Homo sapiens: one gene and its partner. The protein of the gene in region 1 interacts with the protein of each later gene in a pairwise test. Each region holds a gene or a part of one and is shown on either strand. Other genes may lie near its edges.

Region 1 (7,033 bases):
TGGGAAGGAGTCCAGGTGCCAGGCAGCCCAGGGCGAGTGGTGCCCACAGGCTTGGGCTGTGCTGTGCATAAGGGCCACACCTGAAGCTCGGCCACACCTGAGGCTCGGCCACCACATAGGCCCCGTTTCTTTACCAAGATAGGTTCCTGCAGAGGTCGTGAAGCTGCTGTGGTCATTTGCTGGCAGCGACGTGAAGATAGAATTCTTTCCTGACTCAACCAGGGGCACTCTCGTCTCCTCCCCGTGAGACCCGCAATGCAGGAAGCACCCACAGCTGCATGGACAGAACTGGGGCCTGGGAAAGAGGCCAGGAAGGTGCCAGATGAGAGGGCGCTCCATCAGGGTGGCAGCAATGCCATGGGCTGGCAAATGGAGAAAGGGGAACAAAGCACCCAAGTGCATCTAGCCCCAGCCACACGCCTTCTGCTGGGAGTGTGCTCAGAGGGAAGTGACCGCTAGGATTCGGAATCTCCAGTCACGGCCCCTGGAGACCGGCATGTGGGCTGTGTGTGGGGTGGAGGGCTGGGGGTGTTGGCAAGTCTCACAGGTGAGGACCCAACGAGGGAATCAGACAAAAAGTGGCCACAAATTAGGCAGCTCCAGGAAGGACATGTCCTTGCCATAGTAAGATGTTCTGCTCACGCGTATCCACGAGAAAGCCCCGCATTTCACGGGGAGCATAGAAACAGGAGTCCCCAACTCTGCTCACCAGCTCCTCCGGCTGCTGCCATCTGCTCCTGCAGCATGGCGGCCTGGGAAGCCTGCACTGGTGATTTTCTGCCACTCAAGTTTTGCAGACTTCGGGAAGATGGATGCATAGCCTGGGGCAATGACAGTCACAGGCCCGCCTTGTCACAAGGTCCCTGGAGCGGGCAATGCCTTGAGCCCAAAGGCTGGGAGCACAAAGCCATCTTCAGCCATCCTCGATTTCCAGCAAGACCCCAGGGCTCACCCAACAGCCCGACACTCCATACTACAAGGTGGGTTAATTTTTTTAAAGACTCTGCAGAAATATACCAACTACAGAGCTCAGGAAAGCAACTGATTTATAAAACCCAATCCAAGTTGTTTGCTTTTATAGCATTAGAGACATGTCTGAAGAACTTCAAGTTTTTATCTATAGAAACATAATTAGTTTAATAAATTACTAGGTCTATTTTGAATAACAAATTGAGTACTTTTATTAGACCTAAGTGGAACTTTATCTGAATCTGAATTTTCCAAGGGGCCAGTGTAGAGTGACACAGGTGTCCGAGGCCACCTTTCCATCTTCAGACACCCCCCCGTCTCTCTGCACAGGGAGTTGGCCTTCCAGTAGGTGTTGCTCTTCTGTCTTGACGTCTCCTGGAAAGATTTTTATCTCTATTTTCCTGTGGTGGTGTTTTCCACGAGCTAATTCTTTCTATCTTTAAACTCATTGGCTGAAAACAAATGTGGGAATATTTTTGCATTAGTAACAATTATATTATTTTTAAATGTTAAGCAACACATCATACCAGCTATCACAGAATGTAGATGATTCTACTCCCCCTTCCTACAGAAGGACACATGAGGTATCCACACTTAGTGTCTCTCATTCCCCATTTTACAGCCCACGCTCTTGTGAAATTTGGGATTCCAATACATGGCTGATATTGTAAAGTCAACAGTGAAATAAAGTGCTTGAAACTCAATTCAAAAATGCATAATAAAAATAATTTTCTACATTTTGCACTATTTAACAATTGATGGTTTCAAGGCGTGGATAAGCCACCCATTCAGTTATCTATTTACTCGTACATTGCCCCGCATGCCTGTGATTAACTCAGGTCAATGATGGAGCATGAGAGAAGTCCGCGTCTCACAGGAGGCTGGGCCTGTGCAGTCCACCCTGGGACTTACGATGTTTTGTACTCATAGGATCTGAAAAGGCTCTTTTCCTACTTGTGACAAATGCTTGGAGTAGATTTCTGATCTTCCTTCAGGGAATAAAGTGTTATCTGCTCAGCAGTTGCTTTGGGAAAGAATGCGAGGGGATAAATCATCTTCAGGAGTTGGGGGCGCCTTCTCCATCCACATCAACCCAGTATCAGTTGCTGGCTGTGGACTCACGAGATTTGCTTCCTGAGTATGAGGGTGACACAAAGCTGGGACAGGAAGAGACACACTGGCTGGGAGAATGTTCTAAAGAGGAGCTAATTTTAACAAAGAAAAATGTGATAGAGACTGCCGAGACCAGCTCGGTCAGGAAGACCCTAACCCAGCAGTGCTAGAGGAATTAAAGACATACGCACGGAAGTATAGCATGTGGAGTGGGAAATCAGGGCACTCACAGCCTTCAGAGCTGAGAGCCGTGAACAGAGATTTACCCACATATTTATTGACAGCAAGCCAGTGATAAATTGTTTCTATAGATTATAGATTAACTAAAAGTATTCCTTATGGGAAACAAAGGGATGGGCCAAAACAAAGGGATGGGCTCTGGCTAGATATCCACAGCAGAAACATGTCCTTAAGGCACAGATCGCTCATGCTACTGTTTGTGGTTTAAGAACGCCTTTAAGCGGTTTTCCACCCTGGGTGGGCCAGGTGTTCCTTGCCATCATTCTGGTAAACCCACAACCTTCAGCGTGGGCATCATGGCCATCACGAACATGTCACAGTGCTGCAGAGATTTTGTTTGTGGCCAGTTTTGGGGCCAGTTTATGGCCAGATCTGGGGGCCTATTCCCAACAAGAGACAAAATAGCATCCTGTACTGTGGCTCCCAAGCTAACAGCGCCACCCCTGTTCAGAGGAGTCCACGCCGACAAGCAGCAGGTGCAAGACCGCAGTGCAGAAGCAGGGAGCACGGGAGGCTGCGAGCCCTCAGACTCACGGGTGGAGACAGTGCCACACACATCACCTCCGCAGCCTGCACCCACGGAAACAAAGCCCCCAAGTCCCCTCGGCCCCAGCCAGACGCTTGCTGCTGTGAGTGTACTCAGAGGGAAGCAGCCGGGAGGACTTGGAATCTGCTCCACAGCAAGAAGTGCTAAGGGTTAGGATCTTGTTTGAAAGGCATGTACCCGTGTCCTTGGAAGAACACAGGACTCCAGGGAGCACCATGCTCACCCAGGGAGGTGAAATTGTGTGGTGAGGAGCTGATGGGATGTGTGTGTTTGGGTACAGAACCTCTGCTTCTCTTTACAGATGATAAGCACAAAGGGTCACCTTTGGAGGAGCTGAATTGTTAGATGACGATCTTTGTCCCAGGAGAGTGGCACTCTGATTCTTGTGGCCAGCGTATTTGGGTATTGTCTCTTCATCAGCTGACAGAGGTGAAATTTTTCCAAAAGCAGGTTCCAATGCCTAAAAGACAAAATGCAGGGAAATTCTTCACATTTTCGAAGGTAAAATAAATTCAAATTTTAATACAATGAAGAATAATTGGAATGTCCTAGAAAAAAATAGGGTACAAGGTAGGGGGACTTGGACTGGGTTTTCCCCCTAATATGTTGATAAGAACAGAAACCCTCACCAAGCGTTTGTGAAGGAACCTTTGTGGAGCCGATGTTTGCTTTGTGTTTCTTATTGTGGTTCCTTGTTTCAAAATGATCACAGGATCCCAAAGGCTACAGAACAAACAATCCCCAACATATCTTCCTTTAGGCTCCTGTGTCTTCAACCGGGAGTGTGTTAACGGAGGAAGAAAATGTGATACTACTTCTAGTGTTGTCTCTACAACTTGTCTAAGATCCAAAATGCAAATTCCCAACTTTCCCTGTTATCAGCAGACTGACCTGGAACAGGGTGATCCTTCAGGTGGGATGAGGTATATTAGGTCTGGAATGCTAAATTATTCACCGTTCTGCCCTCTGAGGAGGAGAAGGGAATGAGAAGGGGAGAGGGTTGCTATGAACGAACCCTTAATATCAGATCCAGAGTGGCTCACCCACACAGCCATGCCCGCGTTCTGTGGGTGCTCGAGTCTCAGCCTTTTAGATATTCAGTCCCTAAAACGGCGACTACACACAGATACACCTTCGCATATTTAAAGTGTGGGATTCACATATCCCATCCTGTTTCTTCAAATCAGGTATGCTCTTGTGAGCGTACATCCTGTTCTTATAAATAGCCCCACGGTGACCAGTGCAATGCACAGAATGGAAAAATATTTGGAAATTCACCAAGCTCTAATCTCAAAATAAGAGAATGATCAAAACTGCAGGGCATGTGAAGACTGAATAAGACTTCATTGACTCTTAGGGTAATTGTTATACAATGACCCAAATGGGGCAGTAGATACTATTTTTTAGGAACTGGCATACAATATATGTAGGGAAAAAAATCCCTGTGAGTCTTCTTGGGTTCTCCCCACAGAAGGTGGACAATCCCGGCCAGTATTTGTGGCAATTTCCCCCACTCTTCCTCTGACAGAGGAACAGCCTGCCCAGCTTCTGCTCTTCCTTCCGCAGAAGGACTCGGCGCTTTGCTGTGCTGAGAGGCTAAACTCACTTTCTTTCTGAGGCAGCAGAAGCCATCTCCATGGAAACAAAGCTCTCGCAGAGCTCCCGAAGAGTGGGAATAACTTCCAAGATTTCCCGTAATTTCTTGTAGAGGAACTTGTGGCAGTTTTTTTTGTTTGTTTGTTTTGTTTTTTTCAGACGGAGTCTTGCTCTGTCCCCCAGGCTGGAGTGCAGTGGCGCGATCTCGGCTCACTGCAAGCTCCACCTCCCTGATTCAGGCCATTCTCCAGCCTCAGCCTCCCGAGTAGCTGGGACTATAGGCACCCGCCACCACACCTGGCTAATGTTTTTGTATTTTTAGTAGAGACGGGGTTTCACCGTGTTAGCCAGGATGGTCTCAATCTCCTGACCTCACGATCCACCTGCCTCGGCCTCCCAAAGTGCTGGGATTACAGGTGTGAGCCACCGCGCCCAGCTGTGGCTGTTTTTGCTGTGCTTGGAGAACAAACCACAGAGCAGTCTCCTCTGGAATGTATTCGGTGGGTGCCTGTGTGTGTGTGTGTGTGTGTGTGTGTGTGTGTGTGTGTGTTGTAATCACTGTGCTGTATCGGAAATATTCTAAGTCCTGGAAGTACCGATTTAAAAGTTCACACAATAAATGCAGCTAGGAAATGTTAGTACTTTTCTTAATCCACTAAGAAATATCCCCACTTACGTTTGGAGGGTGTTCATGTGGTTTCATGTGTTGTTACCTGTATGTATAATTTTAATGATTCAAGTTATTTAGATCCATATGCAGGAAACAGAACCCAGACAAGGCAGTGATAACACTGGCCACATTCACACTCTCTTAGGCTGGTTCTTTGAGCGGTGTGATCAAACGTGAAAGCTCAGTGTTCTGTAGAGGCAGGCTGGTGCTGGGAGGCACCCACTACTTCAGCATGAGAATGCTGGTTCTTCGTTCGGGATAGAGCAGGTTAGTGATACAGGATGGGGGCAGGAAAGTCCTGGGTGGAGAAGAACGGGGTCCCTGGCTAGGGCTCGACCCCTGGGCCTGTGCCCATGGACCTACGCATTTCTGCTTTTGTGCCCAAATGTTGCATTTCCCAAGACCACCGTGGCCTGCCACACTCCCATCCTATGCCTATAAAAACCCCAAGACCCTAGCGGGCAGAGACCAAGCGGCTGGATGTCGAGAAGAACACACCGGCAGAAGAGCACACCAGCAGACACAGCAGACGCCAGCAGGCCATCGACTGGCGGAATGACACGGAGTTTGCTTGGGGTGGTCAGGGGAGAGCCCGGTCACTGGGCAGCCCAACTCCCAAGGGGAAAACTGCCTTCCCACTCCATCTCCCTTCTGGCTCCCCCATCTGCTGACAGGTATCACCACTCAATAAAAAACCTTGCACCCATCCTCCAAGCCCATGTGTGATCTGATTTTTCAGGTACACCAAGGCAAGAACCCAGGATACAGAAAGCCCTCTGTCCTTGTGATAAGGCAGAGGGTCTAATTGAGCTGATAAACACAAGCTGCCTACGGAGGGGTAAACTGAAAGAGCTCCCGCACTGTAACACACACCCTCTGGGGCTTCAGCTGGAAACATTCACCCCCAGACACTGCCGTGGGGTCAGAGCCCCATAGCCTGCCGGTCTGTACACTCCCCTAGAGGTTTGAGCAGTGGGGAACCAAAGAAGCGAGCCACACCCCCATCGCACACCCTGCGAGGGGGACAAGGGAACTTTTCCCGTTTCAACAGGTCTCTATTGCATTCTACACAGCTGTCCTAGAGGATGAACAGAAGGACACCAGGCTACTGAGCTGGCTCTGGAGTCACCCTGGGTTCAAATCCCAGCTCTACGTTCTCCAGCCCGTGGCCACGATGGGGTTAGTAATAGGATCCATTTCATAGGGTCGTCATAGAGAGTAAGACCGTAAAGCTCCGTACCTAGCCCATGTAAAGTCCACAGTAAGGGTTTGCTGCTGTTGTCCTGAGACATCATGAGATGTCTTAGAATTCTGGACTTGAGACACACGGCCTGGGGGCGGCAATGCTTCTGTCTGCTGGAGTGCCAGGTGAGAGGCCTGATGTATCCAGTTCTTATTAATCATTACTTACGGGAAATGGAGTTGATGGAAAGATAGCAACCCCTCCCACCACCCGGAGCGTGAGTGATACCGCGTCATTCAGCAATAAAGCCCACATCTTTATGGGGACGCTATTTTTACATAACGCAAACGGTACAAAAACATAAATGCGCTTTTGGTACCAGAGTGTGCGATTCTTGCCCCGCGTGTGGGGACGCTGCAGATTTCTTCCTGGCTTTCCACCGCTGCAGCTGCAGAGCTCTCAGCTTTTCTCGGAGCTCCATGTTCTGCTCCCTCAAAGCATCTATATGACTCCGGAGTTTTCCATGAACATCAGCCCACAGAGACTTCTGTCTCCCAAGCTCTTGGTGGAGTCTGATGATCTGCTGCTGTAATGGCTGTTATTGGGAAGAGAACACCAGAAAAACCTCTCAGATGTCACAATGGGCACATTTATCTGCAAAATACTCAAGCCCTCTCTGATGTAAGACCAACACTATTTCTGGAATAAAAGACAC
Region 2 (5,211 bases), on another chromosome or scaffold:
GGGGACAGATTGCTCTCTGGGGTCCTGGGCTGTGAAGAGGCAGCTGCTGGAAGGAGAGAGGGGGCCAGGGTTTCCTGGGTGCCATCAGAAGGCAGACTAAAAGTAGGCAGCCTGATGGGGGTGCCAGGGTGGGGTTGGGGCAGCGGGAGCTGGCAGTGGGTCTGGGCTCAGGGAGACATTCCCTGGGACCGCCCCCCAAAGGACTTTTGACAGCCCTGTTGGTTTGGGGGCCTTGTGACATTTGGACCAACCAGGGCAAATCTCTATCTGCTCTGAGGGCCTCTTCTGCCTGCATAGGCATGGTCACCTTCAGGCTGGGGTGTCAGGAGCTTTGAGAGGGGCACAACCAGAGCCCTGGGGGCCCTCACAGAGCAAGCAGTGTCTCAGTGGGGCCCACAGGAAGGTTTAGAGAGGGCAGGGCACAGGTGTTGCAGGGACAGGCATGGCATAGGCCACAGCCCGATGGGGGCGGGCAGGGCTGGGAGTGTGTGAGGAGACCCGCTGTAAGCAGGACTGTCCTGGAGACGGTGCCAGCCAAAGATTGGGTAGCACTGACCCGCTGCCACACATGGCTCAACTTGGCCAAGGCTGCCTGGTGGCTGCGGGTATTAGAGCTGGGCCGTAGACAGAAACCACAGGGCTGGGAGGTGGCATCTGACTGTGACCGCCTGGCTGGGGCAGGGAGGGACCCACCTCAGGCTGTGGGGCTGGCAGAGACTGGGCACCCTGTGGCCTGTAGCCTTGGCTAGGTCTTGGCAGGGATGGGGAACCTCCCGGGCCCAGGCCTGGGTGCCCCAGTGCCTGGCCAGGGGGATGGGGGGACTCCTCTTCCCGCTGTGAGCTCACAGCCCCCCTCGACCCCAGAAACTGGAGGAGCAGGACCGCCGGGCACTGAGCATCAAGGAGCAGCTGCAGCAGGAGCATCGTTTCCTGAAGCGGCGCCTGGAGCAGCTGTCGGTGCAGAGCGTGGAGCGCGTGCGCACAGATAGCACGGGCTCTGCTGTCTCCACGGACGACTCAGAGCAAGGTGGGGCGTGGGGCGCGGGGCAGCCTCACCTGGGCCTCCGGGTGCGCAGTGGTGCAGCTCCCTGGGTGGAGAGGAGGTGCCTGGTGCTGGGGCTGGGGAGAACCCTCCCAGCTCCCTGCTGCACTGGGGTGTGTGTTTGTCACTAAGCGCAGAAGGGACTGGACAGGGAGGGTGGGATGCAGAGGCTGTGTGGCCCGCTGAGGACTGGTGCTTCTGAGGCCGGGTTCTCAGCCAGAGCCCTCCTGGCGTCTGCTGCCCCAGGGCCCAGACAGCGCCCTCCGCACTTCTGCCCCTCTGCCTAGAGCTTCTGCTTCCAGAAAAGGGAGAAATGGGCTGGCACCCTCAGAGTGGCCTGACCCCATCCCCACTCTATTCTCCCTAGAAGTGGACATAGAGGGCATGGAGTTTGGCCCTGGTGAGCTGGACAGTGTTGGCAGCAGCAGTGACGCGGACGACCACTACAGCCTGCAGAGTGGCACCGGCGGCGACAGTGGCTTCGGGCCCCACTGCCGGCGGCTGGGCCGCCCCGCCCTCTCGTAGGCCCGTGCCCTCTGCTCCTTGGCCTGCCTGCCCGCCAGCCACGCGTGTCAGCCCTCCAGTTCTCCTTCAGTTGACGCCAGCCTCTCCACAGGCCCACTGCTGTGCCATTCTGGAAGCTCCAGCTGCTGCTGGGCTGCCTGGCACTGCCCGCTTGCCGGTCAGGGCCTGCCGAGCTGCCTGCCCCTTCCAGCTGGGCAGAGTCCCCTGCAAGGAGGCAGGGCCCAGCTTCCACATCCGGAGCCCTGGTCAGCATAGCCGCCCACGGTCTGTTCTCAGATTCCTAATCATTCCAGAAGTATTAAACGTCATTGCTGCAAACCTCGGCAGGTGCCGTGTGAGGGGCTTAATGACCACCACAGGGAGCTCAGACCCCAACCCTGGATCCCAGGAGAAAGGAGTGGACCGAGGAAGGAAGGAAGGCAAGGCTGTCTGTCCATCCGTCCGTCTGTCCACCTACCTGTCAGTCCACATAGGCTCCTGGCGTGGACAAGGGGTCTGTGAAGGGCGGGAACTGGGTGAGCACCTGGGGCAGGTGGGTGGTTAAGGTCCTTCCCACTTCGCAGGTGTCAGAACCTAGGGCTGGGCTCTCGGGGCCAGGCAGGCCAGCCCAGCCCACGCCGAGCTGGGCAGCGTCTGCTCTGGTAGGACTGTCAGACGCACACGCGCACGCACCTAGACACACCCACTCATGTACATGCTCACACATGCAGACACACCTGGGCGTCCCGAGGTCACATGTTCTGGGGATGATGGCCTTCAGGGGTCATCTGGCAAACAGCCCCTGGGCTGTGCCTGGATCCCCCTCTAGCTCCTGCTCACCCACGCCCACCCAGTAGTCCTGCCTGTCTGCACAGGAGAGGGGCTTCTCTTCCTGGCTGGGGCTGGGGTGAACTGGAGGCTGGTTAAGTTGCAGCCGCTGGGTCCTCGGGGGCTTACTCATCTCCCTTTTTTAAACAAAAAGCAAAAAAGTAAAATGCTGCACTGCCCAGCAGCCCGGTTAGGGCTCCTGGAGCCACCTTAGGAAAGGGCTTCTCATGAGCTCTGCTGCGGCAGCTTCAGCTGGCAGAGAGGCTTTCCCAGAAAAAAAAAAAAAACCATTTTTAAAAAGAAGAAAGCCTAAAGACTCTCGGCCTAGGGACGTCCGTGTGTGCCGCCTCTGTTTCCTGTACCAGATTTTTGTATTCTATTTTCCTAGCTGTTGTTGCGTCCTTGTTTGCTGAGGGGTGGGAGCCACCCAGCGTCTCAGGGACCTGTCCCTCCGTCACGTCGTCAAAGTGTGCCTTGTGTCTTGTGTCAGGCCTTGCCCTTCCCACCAGCATGTCCCTCGTGGCTCAGGGTGCCCCAGGCCTGCCCAGCTAGTGCTGTCCTCCCATCTCCTGTGGGCAGCCCCTCCCGGCAGCCAGGGCTTCCTGGAGGCGATGCAGCCAGGCCCCTGTGGGTGGCACGGAGGGGCTGTGACCTGGTCCCCAGTGTTGCCCTCCCCAGTGGCTGGCAGGGGCCTGCTTGCTCACTAGAGAGATGGATTCTCACCTGTCACCTGACTCGAGCCCCCTGCTTCCTGGCCTAGGCGAGGGTTCCAGGTTTCAGACACTGGCAGCCAATGAAGACTGTGCTCGCTGGGTGGTGCAGGCCTGGCACCAGGAGGCTTGCACCCGCCTTTCCTTCCTGACGTCCTCTGTCCTTGGGGCTGGCCCATAGCAGTGCCTGCCGTGCCTCTGGTACATCTGTAGCCAATTCCCATATCATGGGGAAAATTCGTGTCTATTTTCAGTCGTACGCATAGACGCCCCAGGATGGGGGGCCCACTGTGGCGGAAGGGGGTCCCTGGAAACAACTCTGGCACAGAACCTGCCCTGCAGGCTGTAGGGGGCATGGTGCCTGGAGCTGAGGGGCATCCGAACGCGTTGCGGGTGGTTGTGAGGAGGCCTGTCTGCATCTCCTTCCGGCCCCACTGGGGTCCAGGGGTGCCCAGAAAGGAGCTTCCCCTGCCTGCCTGAGTCTGTCCCCCCAGGCTTCATTTCAAACACCGTGGCACCTCCGAGCAAGGCGGGCCGTGTGTAAAAGCTTGCTTCCCCAGCCAGCACTGCAGGGCCCTGAGGTGGTCGTGTCCCTGCCCTCAATTCTTGAAGCACCAGCTCCCTGCCCCACCCTCCAGTGCCTGAGGCAGCTAGGGGCTTCTGCTCTCATCTCTGACCAGCAGAATCCACCCGGTGACCAGTGGTGGCCCCTCAGCCCACCCTCCCGGCAGCTCAGCCTGTGGCTCTTGAGGCCGTGGTTCCCACGTGGACTGGGAGGCAGTCTCAGCCACCCGGGGTGCTGTTCAGCTGCCCCTCCCTGCCATCAGCAGGTGGGTGAGGGGTTGCCCACTGGGTGGGGGCCCGTGCTAGGAGTCACCACATGCTCCAACCTCCCACTGCTCCCTGTCAGGGGCCCAGGCTGCCATCACTGGAGGCTGCAGGGACCAAGAGGCCATCACCGTGTCTATAGAGAGCAGACAGAAGCAGAACAGAGCCCGGGGCTCCTGAGCCTCTGCGTGTGCCCTCCCAGCCCACACCAGTGCTCTCGGCCACTGAGCACCCAGACTCAGGCTTGGGTTCCCCAGCCTTATTGGAAGGCAGCTCCCGCATACCAGGATAACCCCCGCAAACCACATAGCAGACCCCCGCCATCCTCGCAGAGTGGGAGAGGCTGCAGCAAGGCTTTGCCTCTGCAGACCCCATCTTAGTGGCACGGTGCTTGGGCCTGTGTCCCCGGGTGGTGGAACCCTGTACCGGTCTGTGGCCCTAGGGTCCCTGCTCTGTCTGCCCCGGCCCGTGCTGTCCGCTGGGTGAGGCAGGCTCCCCCGTGCCCTGCCTCCCTCTGTCAGGGAACCTGGGACCCCCTCCCCACTGCCTGCACAGAGGACCCTGACCCTCGGCCAGCAGGGTGGCCCCAGGTCCATGTTGGGCACTAGGGCAGGTTCCGTGCCAGAGTCGGGGGCCACACGAGGGCCTGGTGCCGGTGAGGGGGGCGTGCGCTAGAGGGGGAAAGGGGCCCCCGGCCACCTGTCCACCGTGTGGGCCGTGCTGTGTCCTTATGTCATTGTAATATAAATACAGATTTTTATATCTCACCCTGCTGGCTCCGGCTCTTTCTGTGGTTGTCACTGTCAGCGTGCTTCGCGCCCTGCCCTCGGCCTCCAAGCAGAAAGCCTGGCCCAATGGCACCACGCCATGTGGCCTTCGGGCCGTGGCCCTCGTTGCCCTACCACAGCCTCTTTCCTGGGAGGCCTGACGGAGCACGGCACCCCGTGCCGCCAACCACACCGGGCCCGCCGTCACAGCTGCCTCCCTGGATGCTGTGGCGCCTGGAGCTGGGTGAAGGTGGGGTTGAGGTGGGCGCCCCCATGGGCCTGTTGGCCAACTGGATGCTCTTGTTGCTCTTGTCCCAGAGGCACTGGGACTTTGCCTCTGGCCCTTGTGCTGGGGCCCTGCTGGCCGAGGACAGCCCGCTCCCTGGGGTGCTCCGTGCCAGCCAGGAGCCCTCTGCACAGAGGCTGCTGGCTCTCAGAGCTGCACTGTGAGAATCGCTCTGTACCTGTTCCCAGAACTACCTGGGCACGGCTTCTGCTTCCTGTCATGGGGACCTGCCGTGCTGAGGTGAAG

Evidence for each region.
Region 2: the proteins of TCP10L (region 1) and MXD4 interact in binary tests that used the Homo sapiens proteins (3 or more experiments, as listed by UniProt).

The regions. Positions count from the first base shown.
Region 1 is NC_000021.9:32,575,503-32,582,535, forward strand, and holds part of TCP10L (T-complex protein 10A homolog 1), read right to left. Parts: intron 6,914-7,033; coding exon 6,698-6,913; intron 3,330-6,697; coding exon 3,192-3,329; intron 1,422-3,191; coding exon 1,272-1,421; 3' UTR 1-1,271. Other genes in the region: CFAP298-TCP10L (uncharacterized protein LOC110091775), read right to left, coding at 1,272-1,421, 3,192-3,329, 6,698-6,913. UniProt on the Homo sapiens protein: May be involved in transcriptional regulation. Has in vitro transcription inhibition activity. Acts as a tumor suppressor in hepatocellular carcinoma (HCC) cells.
Region 2 is NC_000004.12:2,246,900-2,252,110, reverse strand, and holds the end of MXD4 (max dimerization protein 4), read left to right. Parts: intron 1-864; coding exon 865-1,027; intron 1,028-1,409; coding exon 1,410-1,567; 3' UTR 1,568-4,679; downstream 4,680-5,211. UniProt on the Homo sapiens protein: Transcriptional repressor. Binds with MAX to form a sequence-specific DNA-binding protein complex which recognizes the core sequence 5'-CAC[GA]TG-3'.